3 separate regions of the Homo sapiens genome follow, and all the other regions are linked to region 2. Evidence: fine-mapped expression QTL. A gene starts in region 2. Each other region holds a variant in brackets. All regions are shown on one strand. Distances are from middle to middle. Region 1 overlaps GPHN (gephyrin). Region 2 holds the start of ZFYVE26 (zinc finger FYVE-type containing 26). Region 3 overlaps ZFYVE26 (zinc finger FYVE-type containing 26).

What was found. PIP is the estimated chance that this variant, and not a neighbour inherited with it, causes the effect.
Region 1: its variant is the best candidate, but not a certain one, in a credible set for the expression of ZFYVE26 in neutrophils (BLUEPRINT, PIP 0.73).
Region 3: its variant is the best candidate, but not a certain one, in a credible set for the expression of ZFYVE26 in whole blood (INTERVAL, PIP 0.53).

Annotation. Positions count from the first base shown.
Region 1 is chr14:67,177,377-67,184,257 of GRCh38, reverse strand. GPHN (gephyrin) reads right to left here. Exons shown (of 23, transcript NM_020806.5): 22 at 4,584-4,680; 23 at 2,455-3,454. The coding sequence ends at 3,321. The region is part of intron 1 of LOC105370538 (a long non-coding RNA gene); the gene reads left to right. Among named protein-coding and RNA genes, the nearest start is that of GARIN2, 8.6 kb to the left of the region's middle. The variant G/A (reference allele first, on the strand shown) is at 2,894.
Region 2 is chr14:67,814,336-67,820,892 of GRCh38, reverse strand. It overlaps ZFYVE26 (zinc finger FYVE-type containing 26), which reads left to right and starts at 4,303. Exons shown (of 42, transcript NM_015346.4): 1 at 4,303-4,359; 2 at 4,847-5,123. The coding sequence starts at 4,930. RAD51B (RAD51 paralog B) reads right to left here and starts at 1,114. Exons shown (of 11, transcript NM_133510.4): 1 at 1,040-1,114. RefSeq lists enhancers at 1-727, 987-1,281, 3,772-3,871, 3,922-4,091.
Region 3 is chr14:67,790,719-67,795,718 of GRCh38, reverse strand. ZFYVE26 (zinc finger FYVE-type containing 26) reads left to right here. Exons shown (of 42, transcript NM_015346.4): 13 at 1,480-1,548; 14 at 1,960-2,111; 15 at 4,946-5,000. Among named protein-coding and RNA genes, the nearest start is that of ZFYVE26, 23 kb to the left of the region's middle. The variant G/TTTG (reference allele first, on the strand shown) is at 2,806.

The DNA of each region.
Region 1 (6,881 bases), 640 kb after region 2:
GGTATTTAAGAACTTTAATACCAAATTAACTTTAATAACTTTAATAACTTTTGGGCCTTAAATCAGTACTTTTTCAGTCTTACAAACATCTTATACCTATTTTGTTTCTGTAACTTAAAGAAGATAGACTGTAGGCTGAGTGTGGTGGCTCATGCCTGTAACTCCAGCACTGTGGGAGGCTGAGATGGGCGGATCACTTGAGCCCAGGTGTTCAAGACCAGCCTGTCTCTGCAAAATATAAAAAAATTAGCCAGGTGTGATGGGTAGTCCCAGCTACTCAGGAGGCTGAGATGGAAGGATCACTTGAGCCCAGGGAGGTCAAGGCTGCAGTGAGTTGAGATCATGCCACTGCACTCCAGCCTGGGCGACAGAGTGAAACCCTATTAAAAAAAAAAAGAAAAGAAAAACAGAATAGATGTGGGGCACGGTGGCTCACGCCTGTAATCCCAGCGGATCACCTGAGGTCAGGAGTTTGAGACCAGCCTGGTCAAAATGGTGAAACCCCATCTACACTAAAAATAGAAAAATTAGCTGGGCCTGGCGGTGCATGCCTGTAATCCTAGCTACTTGGGAGGCTGAGGCAGGAGAATTGCTTGAACCCGGGAGGTGGAGATTGTAGTGAGCTGAGATCGCGCCACTGCACTCCAGCCTGGGTGACAAGAGCAAGACTCCACCTCAAAAAATAAAAATAAAAATAAAAATAATAAAAGAATATAGACTGTAGAGTCAGATTGCTAAACTTGAATCCTTGCTCTCTCTCCTACTATCTATGTGACCATGGACAAGTTTCTTAATCTCTGTGCCTCAGTATCCTCATCTATAATACAGGAAAAACAATGCTTATAGGGTTGTGAAAATTGAACATATGTAAAGTGTTTAGGACAATGCCTGGCCTACAGTAAGTTCTACATAATGTGTTTTATTGAGCAAATATTTACTGATGCTTGCATATATGCACATATGCCAGACTCTTCTAGGAATTTGGGGATAACTGGAGTGAACAAAATAAACAAAAATCTCTACCTTTGTGGAGCTTAATACATGACAAGCACTGCTCTCAGCACATTTCATATGTTTAATTTCCACGACACCCCTATAATTGTTGTTCTTCTTATATTACAGGTATAGAAATTATCCTATAATAAAATAATTATCATTAATTACCTGTCATTCTCTGTTTTTGGAATACTCTTTTTCCTGTGCTATCATCTTCAAAATTCTACCTTCCTTCAAGACCCAATAGCATCAGCTGGGCATGGTGTCTCACAACTGTAATTCCAGCACTTTCGGAGTCTGATGCAGGAGGATCACTTGAGGCCAGGAGTTCGAGGCTGTAGTGCACTAGGACCATGCTACTGCACTCTATCCTGAGCAGTAGAGCAAGACTGTGCCTCTACAAAAAAAAAAAAAAAAAAAGACCCACTAACATGCCATCTTACTCCTTGAAATCTCATCTGAATTCTTCCAACCCTTAAAATCTGTATTATGGCATTTATCACATTCTATACACTCTACTATATATTATCAAATATATTAAATATCGTGGTTATTTGCTTGCATTTTGTTATCTCCCTAATGAAGTGTAAGGTCAGGTGCTCTGCCCTATTCATGTTTGTAAATAGTAGCATGATATACTTTGTACCCAAGCACATAATAGATGCTTAACAAATATTTCTTGAATGAATGTACATAAAAGGATTATTTGCATACTCTTTCATTTGACCTCTATTAACTAACCTTATCTTCTTCAACTGTAAATATGAATGAAAATATCACATATCAGTATCAAATATTTGTTTACTATTTTGCCTTTATTTACCATCCCTTGACATTTTGTTTACTAGTAGGCCAATTTTTGTAGTTTGCTTTCCTGAGCACATTTTACAGTATATTTAACATCTTCCTGTTACCACCATTTGAAAAGTGCCCCTAAGTTTTTATTAAAGGATCCATTGTGGATACAGTATATTTTACCTATTGTGTTTTCTATGGTCAGCACAGATATTTTTTGCCATTTCTCACTTCCTTTCTAACACGGTTAAAAATTTCGAGGCGCTCATCTGTAATTTTTTGTTTCATTGCTTATTTTTTTCTCCATTTCAAAGAACTGTAGATGTTTGAAATTGGATTTTATGGCGTCTAAAATAAGAATTATTTTTTTTCTAAGTCATTAGTACCCTTCCTCTAAATTTGCTTGCTATTCTCCAGCTATGACTGGAAAGACGAGACCAACTGCAGGTTCTCCTTCCTTCTCATCTGTATTTTCACACACTACAGATCATAATGCTATGATCACATTTTTCCCCACATATTGTAGTAAGATACAGAGTTACAATATACCATATTTTAAATATTCTTGGTAGGCCATCTTAACCATTTCTTTTATTCAGGCAGAACCCTATCAGAATGGCATGACAATCTTCTCTCTTTAAATAACGAGGCCAACACATTACATTTTTAAATAATGATCAAGGAATTTTTTTATTCATTAAGTTTCAGTATCATTACAGAAAATGTTATGGTACAGAATTGTTTAACATTATTTTGTCTTTGCTCTTGATTTCCACATGAATGCTGGTAACACTAATATCTGTACAAGATCAGTCTTTGATTTTATTTTTTTGTTCTGTACAATTTTAAATGTATTGGTTAAAAAGGCTGTCAGCACTTAAGGAAGCATTTTTTCTTCAGTTTGTTTCTTCAAATAAAAGGTGTCCAGTTACTGCCCAAGAGTACTGTGCCGTGAGGCTATTGGGGCGAGAAACCTCCCTGGATGCTCTGCAGGGGATGGTTCTTGAGGCAAGGCAGAGCCTCCACCCAGTCAGTCTTCTTTTGGCACTGTGCACATAAACACGAGATACATGAGAAAGAACAAGCAAAAGCTCTCTGTAAA[G/A]CAGTTATGAAGCATACTAAGAAGGGAAATCCAAGTGTTGCCTACGCTAGTATAAATAAGCAGACAGCCTTGATTTAAGAGCATAAGTAGTTGTATTTTAAAGATGAGAAAAACACAAGTTCTGCAGGCACCTACCGCTGTCTACTAAAAGCTATCGCTATCAGACCTAGCATTGAACACACAAAGCAATTTGCAAGAAAGGAAAAATTTGCCTTGATATAATCAGAACAGAATTTTCTGTTAAGATTTATTTTTAGGTGTTTTTTTCTTTAAAAGATATTTAAATTCATTTGAAATATAGTTCAAGATGTTGACTATACAGATCAACTTTTATCCAAATCGGGAAAACTAGCTGTGCCGTTGCATATTACAGGATACAGTCAATGATATGTGGACATGCATCAAAGCTTTCTCCTGCTGGTGACCATCATAGCCGTCCAATGACCATGACATCCACCACCTCGCCTTTGTGGAGCTCCACGTACTGTTCTGTCTTTGGAGGTAGCATCAACAATCCATTGGCACTGCGCATGCTCATCAGACGGCTGCTCATTTGATTACCTAGAAAGAAATACTCTTATTACAGCAGCATAAGCATCATGGCGTATACAGTTGGGCCCTTGTAGACCTTTTCAAAATGTAAACAGACAGAAATGCGGGTCTTCAAGAGGAGAAGGGATGATCAAACTTTCCAGTACCTTTTTCAGGTGGCCATGCTATTATATCCTACCACCTTCTCATTCAAACTTTAAAAATAAACATTAGAAATTCTTGCTTGAAAGAGTAAAACCAGGATTTTATAGCATTATGCAAAATGCCATAGAATTTCTCAATTCAGGCTGAAATGTTATGCGTGTCTGAAAAGGGAGGCTTTAAAAAAAGTATTAAAATAATAATGACAATAATGGTAGCAGCTACCATTTCTTTACTGAGTGCCAAAGTACTAGGCACTTTACTTAAACACCTTATTTGATTCTCACAAGACTCAAAAAATTTTTAGGTAACTTGCCTAGGGTCCTGCTAAGTAGGTTGGTGGCCAGTTTGAATGCAGTTCTCTCTGATGGCAAAGCCCATGAACTTAGTCGCTGTTAGTTGACGTTTTCACTTGGTAGGATCTTTGTTTAAAGAGTACTACAACTTTTCTGGAGTCACATCAAAAATTAGGCAAAATATGAGTAGGGAAGTTGGGAATAACAGTTTAAAGTCTAGTGAAGGTTACTGTAGAACTCTGCATTATCAATATTGATTTCTCTGCCCTTCAAATTTACCAATAACTAGCGTATGGTAGAGGCTACAGAGAATCAAATTATAAATTGGGCTTTCATCTCACATTTCAAGATGGTATAGCTAGAATCTCCTCCTTTTCCTACAAAGTTATACTCAGAACTTATTGGTTGAACAAACATATCAAATCTTCTGTAATTCCAGATTTATTACAGGACATTAGTCAATGATATGTGGACATTCTAAATGTTTATCTAGAAAATATGGCTCAATAAAATAAGTAAACTTCTAATAGTTATTTTTTAACTTTTGCTATACTGTTTAGGAATAACTTAACTCATCTAACTTTTCAAAAAGAAAAATGTATAATAATTACAAAATCAGTCATAACCAAGGAAGATTATATATAAGTTTGTGTTTTAACAGGATAGGTGTCTAGGAATATCTGTAGATGTGAATGACTAACCTGTACTCTGTGCCCAAGGTAGTGGTTCTTGGTGATGCCAAGTTAGTATACACCGATGGTATTCTGGACGAGGATCAAGTTTTACATCACATGATAACTACAGAATAAAGTAGAAAAGAAAACAAACTTGGTCACCTGATCATCTCACAAAAATACAAGATAGTAGGGGTTGTGCAAAGAATACAGTGGACATGGAGACTAACCTTGGTATTCTGTCGTTGCTGTCACTACCACCTTATGTTCTTTTTCTTTTTAAATAAAATTTAATTAAAAATGTATTTTTTCTTTTGACACAAGGTCTCACTCTGTTACCCAGGCTGGAGTGCAGTGGCATGATCATAGCTCACTGCAGCCTTGACCTCCTGGGCTCCAGTGATCCTCCTGCCTTGGCCTCCTGAGTAGCTGGGACCACATGCATGTGCCACCATACCTGAATAATTTTTATTTTTATTTTTAGAGATGGCATCTTGCTATGTTGCTCAGGCTGGTCTTGAACTCCTGGGCTCAAGCGATCCTGCCACCTGGGCCTCCCAGAGTGCTGGAATCATAGGCATGAGCCACCATGCCTGGCCACCTTATATTCTTAATACAGGAAGTCTAGGGGTTGGGTTGCTCTGGTGAAAAGAGAAAAGAAGGCTAAGAAGCTGGAGTTCAGCTTTTGTCTGTCTGGGAAAGGCTTTATTTCTCCCTCATTCCTGAAGGATAGCTTTGCTGCATATAGTATTTCTGGTTGGCATTTTTTTTTTCTTTCAGCACTTTACATACATCATTCCCTTCCCTTCTGGCCTTAAGGTTTCTGCAGATAAATCTACTGCTAGTCTAATGTGGACTTCCTTGTATGTGACTTGATGCTTTTCTTTTGCTGTTATTATAATTCTTTGTCTTTAACTTTTGACAAATTGGGAAGGATCTTTTGGGTTGAATACATTTGGAGACCTTTGAACTTCCTGGATCTGGATGTCTATATCTCTCAACAGATTTGGGAAGTTTTTCAGCTAGTATTTCATTAAATAAATTTCCTATCCTCTTTCCCTTCTCTTCTTCTTCTGGACTCTGATGATAAAAATATTTGTTGATTCAAATTCAGGAAATACAGAGAACACCACAAGGATATTCCTCCAGAAGAGCAACCCCAAGGCACATAATCGTCAGATTCACCAAGGTTGAAATGGAGGAAAAAATGTTAAAGGCAGCCAGAGAGAAAGGTCGGATTACCCACAAAGGGAAGCCCATCAAAATAACAGTGGATCTCTCAGCAGAAACCCTACAAGCCAGGAGACAGTGGGGGCCAATAATCAACATTCTTAAAGAAAAGAATTTTCAACCCAGAATTTCATATCCAGCCAAACTAAGCTTCATAAATGAAGGAGAAATAAAATCCTTTACAGACAAGCAAATGCTGGGAGCCTTGTCATCACCAGGCCTGCCTTACAAGAACTCCTGAAGGAAGCACTAAACATGGAAAGGAATAATTGGTACCTGCCACTGCAAAAATATGCCAAATTGTAAAGATCATTGATGCTATGAGGAAACTGCATCAACTAATGGGCAAAATAACCAGCTAGCATCATAATGACAGGATCAAATTCACACATAACAATATTAACCTTAAATATAAATGGGCTAAATGCCCCAATTAAAAGATACAGACTGGCAAATTGGACAGTCAAGACCCATCGGTGTGCTGTATTCAGGAGACCCATCTCACATGCAAAGACACAAATAGGCTCAAAATAAACATTTGGAGGAAGATCTAACAAGCAAATGGAAAGCAAAAAACAGCAGGGGTTGCAATCCTAGTCTCTGATAACCAACAAGGATCAAAAGAGACAAAGAAGGCCATTACTTAATGGTAAAGGGATCAATTCAACAAGAAGAGCTAACTATCCTAAATATATATGCACCCAATACAGGAGCCCCCAGATTCATAAAGCAAGCTCTTAGAGACCTACAAAGAGACTTAGACTCCCACACAATAATAATGGGAGACTTTAACACCCCACTGTCAATATTAGACAGATCAACAAGACAGAAAAGTAACAAGGATATCCAGGACTTGAACTCAGCTTTGGACCAAGCAGACCTAATAGACATCTACAGAACTCTCCACCCCAAATCAACAGAATGTACATTCTTCTCAGCAACACATCGCACTGATTCTAAAATTGACCACATAATTGGAAGTAAAACACTCCTCAGCAAATGCAAAAGAACAGAAATCACAACAAACTGTCTCTCAGATCACAGTGCAATCAAATTAGAACTCAGGATTAAGAAACTTACTCAAAACCACACAAC
Region 2 (6,557 bases):
GTGTCTTAATTTCCTTAAAACCCTTGTTTTACAGTCATATGAATTTACTACTTCATATGACTGTAGTGGAGGTTAAAGGACTCGGGGAGTGCGTGGCACATAGTACTTAAGGTCAGCAATCATCATTTAATGACTCTCACATGATCTGCCCTCCAGCCACATGGTATGTGTATTGGTAGGTCACGCATCCTGTCTCCCTGACTTCCCTCCACAAAACCTTCCCCAGAGTCAAGTCTTTTCCTCTCCAATGTTCTCATCAACTTCGCACATATCTATTCGATAATCTTATCAAAATACTATTATGGCTTGCAAGTTTGTTTGCCCCCACCGGAGCACGTAAATTCCTGCGGTGTATGTGTGCGCGAAAGCACGTATGTGTATTGCACATGAGGGGAGACGGTCAACCCTGGAGAATGAACCCTGTCCTCCTTACCACCAAGAAAAGAAAATTCTTCATGTTAGATGTTCAACAACTGTTTAGGAACAATATTAGCTAATATTTATTGAGCCCTTATTACGTGCCACACTGTTCCAAAGGCTTCGGATATTTTACCTCACTTTACAGATAAGGATACTGAGGTAACTAGTTGAGAAACTTGGGCAAAGTTAAACAGCTGACAATTGGTGTGAAGCTCGCATTCGAATCCAGGGACCGGACTCCAGATTCCACGCTCTCCAACACCACCTGAAGTGGGAGAGTCCCTCAACTTCCCCTAATGACAGGCTGCCCGAAGCGGGAAGGGGCTGGGGAGGAAGATGGGCAGCAACAGGCGGAAACATCACCCAGAATCCCCTAAAAAGAGCTTTTTCCAACAATGAGCAGCTTCCAAGCATTCCCCACCAAAAGAAGGCCCGAAGCTCCCCCAATTCACAGCGGGGTTCTTAGTGACGATCCCGAGTCTTAAGGGGGCGTGACCAGCACCCAAGAGAAAATCTCCGCTCCCCCAATATCGAAACCCACGAGCCTAGGGAAGGAGCAGGAAATAATGAGCGAACCCCACTTCCCCACAACGGCACCCCACATGAAACTTTCCAGTACCGGGTCTGCAGCATCCAACTTTCAAGTTTCCCCACCCTTTACACAGTTTCCCCGCGGAAAACGCCGCAAAGCAACAACCGAAGCACTGATTGAGTCGTCATTCTGGCTACTGTATCCAATCAGAGGCCGGCAGAGGCCCAGGTTGGCTCCGCGGCTTGCTGGGAATTGTAGTTAATACTATGATCAGCCTAACAGATCGAATCTGAAGCAGTTTCTCAATATAGTGATTATCAAAATCTGTTGCAGGACCATCACCAAAGAGAATGTGAAACAAGGGAACACCCTGTTTGGAAATTTTTCTTTTTTCTTTCTTTTTTTTTTTTTTTGAGACGGGGTCTCGCTCTGTCGCCCAGGCTGGAGTGCAGTGGCGCGATCTCGGCTCACTGCAAGCTCCGCCTCCTGGGTTCACGCCATTCTCCTGCCTCAACCTCCCTAGTAGCTGGGACTACAGGCTCCCACCACCACGCCCGGCTAATTTTTTTGTATTTTTAGTAGAGACGGGGTTTCACCGTGTTAGCCAGGATGGTCTCGATTTCCTGACCTCGTGATCCGCCCGCTTCGGCCTCCCAAAGCGCTGGGATTACAGGCGTGATCCACCGCTCTCGGCCCTGGAAATCTTTTTTTTCGTGTATCATCACTTTTCACAATGGCTTAAAGGGGCCAGACGCAGTGGCTCACGCCCGTAATTTCAGCACTTTGGGAGACCGAGGCGGGAGGATCACTTGAGCCTGGGAGTTCGAGACTAGCCTTGGCAACATAGTGAGACACCCTCCCCCACCCCTCCGCCTCTACAAAAAAATACAAAAAATAGGCTGGGCGCGGTGGCTCATGCCTGTAATCCCAGCACTTTTGAAACTGCCCGATGGGTTCACCTTACCAGCTGCCTAGACAGAACCGATTTATCAGGACAGGGGAATTGCAATGCAGAAAGAGTAATTCACGCAGAGCCAGCTGTGCGGAAGACTGAAGTTTTATTGTTACTTAAATCAGTTGTCCCGAGCATTTGCGGATCGGAGTTTTTACCAATAATTTGGCTGGTAGGGGCTTAGGAAGTGGGGAGTGCTGATTGGTCAGGTTGGAGATGGAATCATAAGGGGTCGAAGTGAGGTTTTCTTAATGTCTTCTGTTCCTGGGTGTGATGGCAAAACTGGTTGCGCCAAATTACTGGTCTGAGTGGTGTCAGCTGATCCATGGAGTGCAGGGTCTACAAAATATCTCAAGCACTGATCTTAGGGCTTGCAATAGTGATGTCACCCCCGGGAGCAATTTGGGGAGGTTCAGACTCTTGGAGCCAGAGGCTGCATGACCTCTAAACTGTAATTTCTAAACTTGTAGCTAATTTGTTAGTCCTGCAAAGGCAGACTGGTCCCCAGGCAAGAAGTGGGTCTTTTCGGAAAGGGCTGTTATCAATTTTGTTTCAGAGTCAAACCATGAACTGAATTCCTCCCCAAAGTTAGTTCAGCCTACGCCCAGGAATGAACAAGGACAGCTTAACGGTTAGAAGCAAGATAGAGTCGGTTAGGTCTGATTTCTTTCACTGTCATAATTTCCTCAGTTATAATTTTGCAAAGGCGGTTTCACTTCGGAATGCTGAGGCAGGCAGATCACTTGAGCTCAGGATTTCGAAACCAGCCTGGCCAACATGGCGAAACCCCGCCTCTACTAAACATACAAAAATTAGCCAGACATGGTGGCAGGCACCTGTGATCCCAGCTACTTGGGAGGCTGAGGTGAGAGGAGCCAGACATTGCCTCAAAAAAAAAAAAAACCTTAATGGGCCAGAAAGCCATGTTACTTTTCTCAGGAATCGAGGACAATCCACCAATCACAGAAGAGTTTTTGGAAGAAAACGTTTTGTTTGTTTTAACTTGCTCTTTTCACCACCCTTTGGTGATTAAATAGTTTGGGAAATGCTGAATGAAATTACTAAACCTGAAACACACATAGTGAGGAAAGCTGAGAGTCTGTGATTAAAGCACACCAGGGAAACCAAACAAAAGGCTTGGTGTAAGGCAGCTGTGGTGAGCAAACCTAGTAAGCCGTTACTTCAAGAGTTGGTTTCAGGCTGGGAACGGTGGCTCACGCCCGTAATCCCAGAACTTTGGGAGGCCGAGGTGGGCGGATTGCCTGAGGTCAGGAGTTCGAGACCAGCCTGGCCAACATGGTGAACCCCTGTCTCTATTAAAAATACAAAAATTAGCCGGGTGTGGTGGCGCGCGCCTGTAAATCCCAGCTACTCAGTGAGGCTGAGGCAGAAGAATCGCTTATCCCAGCTACACAGTGAGGCTGAGGCAGGAGAATCGCTTAAACCCGGGAGACGGAGGTTGCAGCGAGCCGAGATCGCGCCATTGCACTCCAGCCTGGGAGACAGAGCGAGACTCTGTCTCAAAACAAAAGACTTGGTTTCAGATTATTGTGTTTGCGAAAAAGCCTTTGCTCATTCTTTGCTCTCTGATCTCTTATGCATACTTCTGTCTTATAATTTAGCCCACCGTCTCCTAATTTTTGGCCTGCATCTCCCTTGAGAAGAAGGACCTCCATTTACTCAACTTAGAGAATAGGGCCTAAGCCCGGTGTAGTGGCGCGCGCCTCTAGTCCCAGCTACTACAGGAAGGCTGAGGCTTAAGGATTACTTGATCCAGGAAGTTCGAGGCTGCCATGAGCCGAGATCACACCACCGCACTCCAGCGACAGAGAGACTCTGTCTCTAAAAAAATAAAATAAAGCCTAGCACACCGTTCAATTAACAGTTGTAGGGTAAATGTGCAAATAAATGAATGGAGTGAAGCAGAAGAATATGGAAATTCAGACCGCAGAGTTCCGGAACAAAAGAGCCCAGTAGATAGAATAATAATGGAGGAGAACCCAGTTCTCCTAGCTCCGGGTATCCCCCGCGCCTGGCAAAACACCATCACTGGTTGGCGTTCAATAAATGTTGACTTCACATGTTAAGGAGATAAGAGAGTGGAAGAAAAAAAAAAATCCAGGGTCACAGTTCTTCCTGCCACCTGCTCGGCCGAATGCAGAACTGAAAGTATTGAGCGCCGGAGCTGTCACAATTGAGGGAGATGGTCCGCAGCCAGGTAGCTGATTTCCTCTTTCCGAGCTTTCTAGCTTTCCCTACTCCCGGAGAGGTGGCGTCACGTGACTCAAACAAATATGGCACTTAATTTTCATCTTCCCTGCCTTGAGCCAATAGGAGTGGGGCTTTCAGTCTTTGTCACCACCCCCACCACCGCTGTTCGGAGTGGGTTCTGTCACCTGACTCGGCTCAAACATGGCTGCGCTGAGAGCTCTATTGCTTTGGGCGCCGGGAGCAGGTGAGTGTAAGACACCCCTGAGAGGGAGGGGCCCCTCTCCACGACCCCCGCAGAGAGCGTCCCTGCGGCCCACCCCCACACTGCTTTCCACTTATGACACAGATTCGTCTCCTGGTCGTCAATCCTCTGCCTTAACAGAGGGCTCAAACTAGGGAGGTTCCTGCTGAATTTCTCATTCTTGAGGAGGCGACCACCTGGGGATTTGGAGTCAAGACTGGGCATAACGTTCAGTAGGGAATACGGACGTAGAGTTATGGGTCTGCGCCCGGAGCAAATATGACTATTAATATTATTAAATATAGGAATCCGCGTGAAGAGATGGGATCCACCCCTTGAAGAAAGTGTTTTCAAAAAGTAACGTGGGAAATTAAACTGAAAACGATACTTAGGCAAGCAAGTCCCGCCTTTCCCAGGCGGACCAGTAGTTGCTGCTTTGTCTTAATACAGTGCCTTCTGTTTCTTCTCACTGGCGTTGTGTTGTTTCTAGGAGGTACTCCGCGAATGAGAACATTGAGAATGTGTTCGGCATAACTCATTTCTTTGTATCTCCCTGCACTCTGTGCTGGGAAAATGAATCATCCATTTGGAAAAGAGGAAGCTGCTTCGCAGAAGCAGCTTTTTGGATTTTTCTGCGAATGCCTGCGGAGGGGAGAATGGGAGCTGGCACAGGCATGTGTACCTCAGCTACAGGAGGGACAAGGGGATATCCCAAAGAGGGTAGAAGACATACTTCAGGCATTGGTGGTGTGTCCAAATCTGCTGAGGTAAGGGATCTCTTTTCCTACCAGACGGTCCCAGGGTGAGAGACATGTGGTTCAATATTTGGGCATTGGTCAATGTGCCCCCACTCAACTACCCTCTGAAGAATAAGCAGAGGCACAGTGTATTTCACGTGCTCTGAAATTTTACCTCTATAGTATACATCCATTACTTAGTCAATATTGGCTTTTGATTATCATCTGCAACTGAATGTAAGCCTGGCTGCCAAAGTGTGCCTGAAACTGCCATTTCTTGTTTATCCTCGTTAATATAGATGGTGGAACTGCATTGAAAACTATTTTCTTTGCCTCCAAAAAAGCAAACCCTGCTCTCTTCTTGCTTATGAGATTGAAAATATTGTTGTCGCTTTACTTAAAACTTTTTATTTCGAAATAATTGCAGTCTCACAAGAAGCTGCAAAAATAATGGAGTCCAGCGTATCCTTTTCCCAGTCTGCCCCAATTGCGACGTCTCATACAGCTGTAGTACAATATCAAAACCATGAAATTGACATTGGCACATTACTTTAAATGACACTACAGAGTTTATTTGGTTTTCAGCATTTTCTTAATCTGCCTTCATTTTTTCATTTGTAGTTTTATGCAGTTTTATCCATATATAGATTCATGTAATCCCACTGTAATAAGGATCAGAACTGTTCCATTACCACAAAAGAATTCCCTCACTCCTTGGTGCTACCTCTTTGTATTTATACAACAACCCCTCCTTGTTCCCTGGCAACCACAGTTCTCCATCCTTGATTTTCAATGAAGTTCCTCCTGGTGATGCTAGTAACCACTGGTGATGTAGGAGTCAAATGTACCGTTTTAAGTCTTTCCTTGGGTTTTCCTTCCTTTGACTGTTATGCTATACTGTTTACATATTGTATTAGCACATATACGATGGAGAAACTTAAGTGATCCCTTCCTTTTCTTTTTCTCCTTTAATTTGAGATCTAGCCAGTTACCGTCTAAATTCCTAACTTCAAAGAAAGGCTTATGAATTCCTAAAGTCCTGTTTTTAGCATATAGTTAAAAATAAATTTGTATGAAGTTCCTTTTTTAAGACTGTCTGATTCACTTTCTGTATTAAAAATATGCTTCAGATAGTATTAGCTATTATGGTTTTCTCGAATATTATTTTATTTTAAACTAAGATAAGGAGGTGGAGGTGAGATTAAGGCTTTTTATGAAAGCTGCTAGCTCTGTTCTGGTTCTGATTTGTTTGTTTGTTTGTTTGTTTGTTTGTTTGTTTTGGAGACAGAGTCTTGCTCTGTCACCCAGGCTGGAGTGCAGTGGCATGATCTAGGCTCACTGCAACCTCCGCCTCCCAGGTTCAAGCGATTCTCCTGCCTCAGCCTCCCGAGTAGCTGGGACTACAGGCGCCTGCCACCGCACTTGGCTAATTTTTGTATTTTTAGTAGAGATGGGGTTTCATTA
Region 3 (5,000 bases), 24 kb after region 2:
ATATAGGCGCATTATGCAGGAGTATTAAATTTTTAGAGAATCAAGTTTTCATTATGGCTTTTGGTGTTGATCTTTTAAAAATTAAAAGGAATTCATGAGGATTTCCCATGGGCTAAACAATACTAGGTATCTTGAGGGAGGTAAATGAGGCACAAGCTAGGCTTTTGACTTCGAACAATTTGTAATGTACCTGCTTAGATAGTATACATGGAAAGTTTAAAGTGACCTGCGACCCTGCCTGAAAACAGAAGAAATGTCTTAAAAGAGGATATCAGCATGACCTGCAGATGTCAGGGCAACAGATTTCATGAAGGAGTTGACTCTTGAACCAAGCTCCAGAGAATGAGTAGGCTCTAGCTAAGTGGCAACATGAAAGGTGAGCATACTGGGTGGGGCGGAGGATGCCGTGAGAGAAAGCTTCAAGGTTGCGTTGCTAAGTCCCTTAAGCTGCTACATTAATTGTTTTGGGTCAGAAGGCAGAGTTTGCATCCACTTGACCCATTCAGCACAAGAATGCACAACCCATCATCTCTTCTACGGCTGTTCCTTCTAAAGGGCTTCCAAACAGTGAACTGAGGTGCCTCCCTTGCATGAGGCTGAGACAGCCCCTCGAATGACCAGGCTAAGGAATAGCGAGCCTCTGTTAGAAAGCTCTAACATGTTAGGAAGCCTGGTGTTGAGAAGAGAGAAGCTTTTTCTCTGAGACTTTGAATATCATGGTCTTTGGCCAGCCAGGTCTTAGACTTTGGTTCCCTACATTTTTTTTAATACAGATAGGGTCTTGCTCTGTCACCCAGGCTGAAGTGCAGTGGCACAATCATAGCTCACTGTAACCTTGAACTCCTGGGCTCAAACAATCCTTCCTGCCGCAACCTCCTGGGTAGCTGGGACTACAGGTGCATGCCACCTTGCCCAACTAATTTGTTTTTAATTTTTTGTGTAGACGGGGTCTTGCAGTGTTGCCCAGGCTGGTCTCAAACTCCTGGCCTCAAGCTATCCTGCTACAACGGCCTCCCAACGTGCTGGGATTACAGGTGTAAGCCACTGCACCCAGCCAGTTGTCTGCCTTTTCAAGTATGAAGATACCTTTTTCTATGTCAGGAAATACTGTGTCCCTACCACTCCCTGGTCATAACAGTTGTGCTTTTATTTTTTCAGAATACTGCCAGTGCTTACTGAGCAGGTGCTGATCACTGACCCCTAAAAATAACTTGAAAGTTCTTGGGGCTCTGAGACCCACAGGTTGGGAACCACTGGTATAGGCTATTACCCAGGTGAACTCTGTTGCCATATTCAGCCCACCCTTTGCCTTTGGTCTATAGGAGCTTGTGTTTTGCTGTAGAAGGAGCAGCAGGTGTCATAGTTATTCATTATCCTCTGTCTCTAACTACACAGATCTTGGCTGTCAAGCCAACTTCACACTTCCTACTCTATAAGGAGCTGATAATTGACTTTCTCTCTTCTTCCCAATACCTGTAGATGGCCGAGACAGAGGTTCAAACCCATCCCTGGAAAGTACAAGTAGTGAGCTGAGCACAAGTACGTCAGGTATGCAGATTTCCACCAGTTGCCAACTTTGAGCAGCTTTGCCCTGATATAGAGTTGCCATACACCATGGTGTAAAGCCAGGATTGAGCAGTCAAGGTTGTTATTCAAGGTTGGCAGATGGCCAGATTTTAGCTGGGAGAAGGGAAAGGACTGTTTCATTCTCAATTTAGTTATCCAGCAACAGAGAGAAATAGAGGTAAATACCCAAAGAAGGTAGTTGGCACTTAGCATCTTCTATTCAAAGATGGTAGCATAGGTTTGCCCTTCATTTGAGGAAAAATTAAGACCTATTTACAGGCCTTTTACAGAAGGACATTGAGGAGATAAAAGTTTGGTGGGAGGTGGCAGCAATATAGCATTTCCTTAATTCCTCTTGCTTCTCTGGCCCCACACATTCTTGTGTCCCAACAGAGGGAAGTCTGAGTGCCATGTCTGGCCGGAATGAGCTGCACAGTAGATTGCACCCCCATCCTCAAAGTTCACTCATCCCCATGATGTTCTCCCCACCTGAGTCACTGCTGGCATCCTGCATCCTTCGCGGGAACTTCGCAGAAGCCCATCAGGTGAGGGGAGGCCATACCTTTTCAGCCCCTGAATGACTTAGCATCAGGTAAGGCTCGGAGCATGTACAACCAGAGCCACCTGGGAGCACTCAGGGGTCCACATCAAGCAGAAGAAGCAGAAGCAAGAGGGGGTTTCCATGTGCCCAGGCCCAGTCTTCAGCAGGGTGGATTGAAAGATAGTGAATTGTTTGTGGTTCTTAACATAAGCAGTGTTTTTAAAAGGTGAAAGAAAATATTCAGCCACACTCCCACCACTTAAAAGCATGGAAACTTTTGTTTCTCTCCTTGACTCCTTCTCTGAACATATACATGGGTTTTTGTTTGTTTGCTTGTTTGTTTGTTTGTTTGTTTGAGACAGAGTCTTGCTCTGTTGCCCAGGCTGGAGTGCTGTGGCACGATTTCTGCTCACTGCACCCTCCACCTCCCAGGTTCAAACGATTCTCCTGCCTAAGCCTCCCAAGCAGCTGGGATTACAGGTGCCCACCACACCAGGCTAATTTTTGTATTTTTAGTAGAGACAGGGTTTTGCCATGTTGGCCAGGCTGGTCTCGAACTCCTGACCTCAAGTGATCTACCTGCCTCAGCCTCCCAAAATGCTGGGATTACAGGCATGAGCCACCACACCCAGCCCATGTTTTTATCTAGTTAAAAATTATAATACAATTTCCTTTTCTTTTTTTTTTTTTTTTTTTTT[G/TTTG]AGACAGATTTGCTTTTGTCACCCAGGCTGCTGGAGTGCAGTGGCGCGATCCCAGCTCACTGCAACCTCCACCTCCCATGTTCAACCGATTCTCCTGCCTCAGCCTCCCGAGTAGTTAGGATTACAGGCATGCACCACCATATCTGGCTAATTTTTGTATTTTTAGTAGAGATGAGGTTTTGCGATGTTTGTCAGGCTGGTCTCAAACTCCTGACCTCAGGAGATCCACCCGCCTCGGCATCCCAAAATGCTGGGATTACAGGCATGAGCCATTGCGCCCAGTCTCAATTATAAATAGAATGCCAGTTCAATATACAAGAAGTATGGAGAGCTAGCAGACTAGAATATTTGTATTGTAGAGAGAAAATAGCACTGGAATGGTAATCAGAAAGACTGAACCTCTCTGAGCTTTGGTTTCCTCATTTGAAAATTGGAGTTAAATGTAATACCTGGTTTTTCTACCTCATAGGAATGTTAAGAGGATTATGTTCTAGCCGTGAGAAATATAAAAATCCTCTACTATTGATTAAACTTAATAACAAGTTATTAAACTTAATAACATAAAATAGTACTCTTCTAATTTTTAAAACCCTCTTGGCATATTAATGATACTTTTACTGGTAGTAAAGTATTTGGTAGTTTATCTACGTAACATGTAGGTCAGAATTGTTCTTTCATGTGAGTTCAGTTTTTGAGGAATAAATCTAGGGAACTCTAGGTAACAGGACAATTTTTACTTAACCTTCTCTGATCATTTTAGATCTTATACTTTAATGATAATTATAATTATGATCCTTGGAGGAGGATAGGACCCTCCCCAGCCCCAGCCTTTCTTTTTCTTTTTTTTTTTTTTTGAAGCAGAGTCTCACTTTCTCACCCAGGCTGGAGTGCAGTGGCTCGATCTCGGCTCACTGCAGTCTTTGCCTCCTGGGATCAAGCGATTCTCCTGCCTCAGCCTCCTGAGTAGCTGGGACTACAGGTGCACACCACCACTCCTGGCTAATTTTTATATTTTTAATAGAGACGGGGTTTCACCATGTTGGCCAGGCTGGTTTTGAACTCCTGACCTCAAATGATCCACCCTCCTTGGCCTCCTGAAGTGCTGGGATTACAGGCACGAGCCACCACGCCAGCCCCTCCCCAGCCTTTCTAATACTCAAATCCAGAGGAATTTAGCTAGGAGTCCCATGATATTTTACCCCTAAATGTCCTCCACTTCTCCTCCTTTTCTTGAGCCGTGGTCTTTTTTTTTTTTTTCAATAAAAACTTTTATTTTTTGACCTGGATACAGACAGAATAAGTTGTACATATACGACAATATCAGAAAGTATTAACAAGAAAATAAAATTACTTTTAACCCTATAGTATGGAACAACCAATATTAAAAATTTATTTTTTTGGCCAATATTTCTCCAAAATATGTATGACTTTTATATAGCTGAGATTATTTCAAATCTAAAACTTTATATCATGCATTTTTACATTTTAATATTAGCATTTGTCTTTTAACCTTGATTTTAGTGACCTTACAATAGTCTGATCAAGTAGCTGCATTTAACCATTTTCCTGTTGCTCAAGATTTAGATTATTTTTAACCTTGTAATAGTTGTAATATATAGTGCCAAGGTGATTACGTTTAGGCATTAAGCCTTTTGAATTATTTTTTTAAGAAAGTTCCTCATAAAAACTACTGAGTCAAAAGATGTAAACATTTTTAAAGCTTTATGGATTGCCAAATTGCTTTTCAAAAAAGTTGTGACACTTAATGTTACACCATCTCCTGAGGATTTATTTTTGTGCTTTGTTATTGTGATAGATGCAAAATGTTATTGTTACTTAAATTCCTAGATTACTGACAAGGGAAAAAATATTTTCTCATTTATATATTAGTCATATATATTTCCTCTGAAATTGTCCACATCTTTTGCCTATTTTCTACTGAGGCTTTGGTGGTTTTCTTACTTTTATGAATTATTTTTTATAGTTGACCTGCTCTTCTAACATTCAGTGCTCTTCTGACCCTACAAAGCACAAAGACATCTTAGGGCCACAGTCTAATGGTTGGCAAGATCTCCTATCCATGGACATTCCCTAAATCAGTGGGACCACCAGGGCCCACACACTCCCTCTCCTATGACAGGTGCTGTTCACGTTCAACCTGAAGTCCTCACCCAGTTCAGGGGAACTGATGTTCA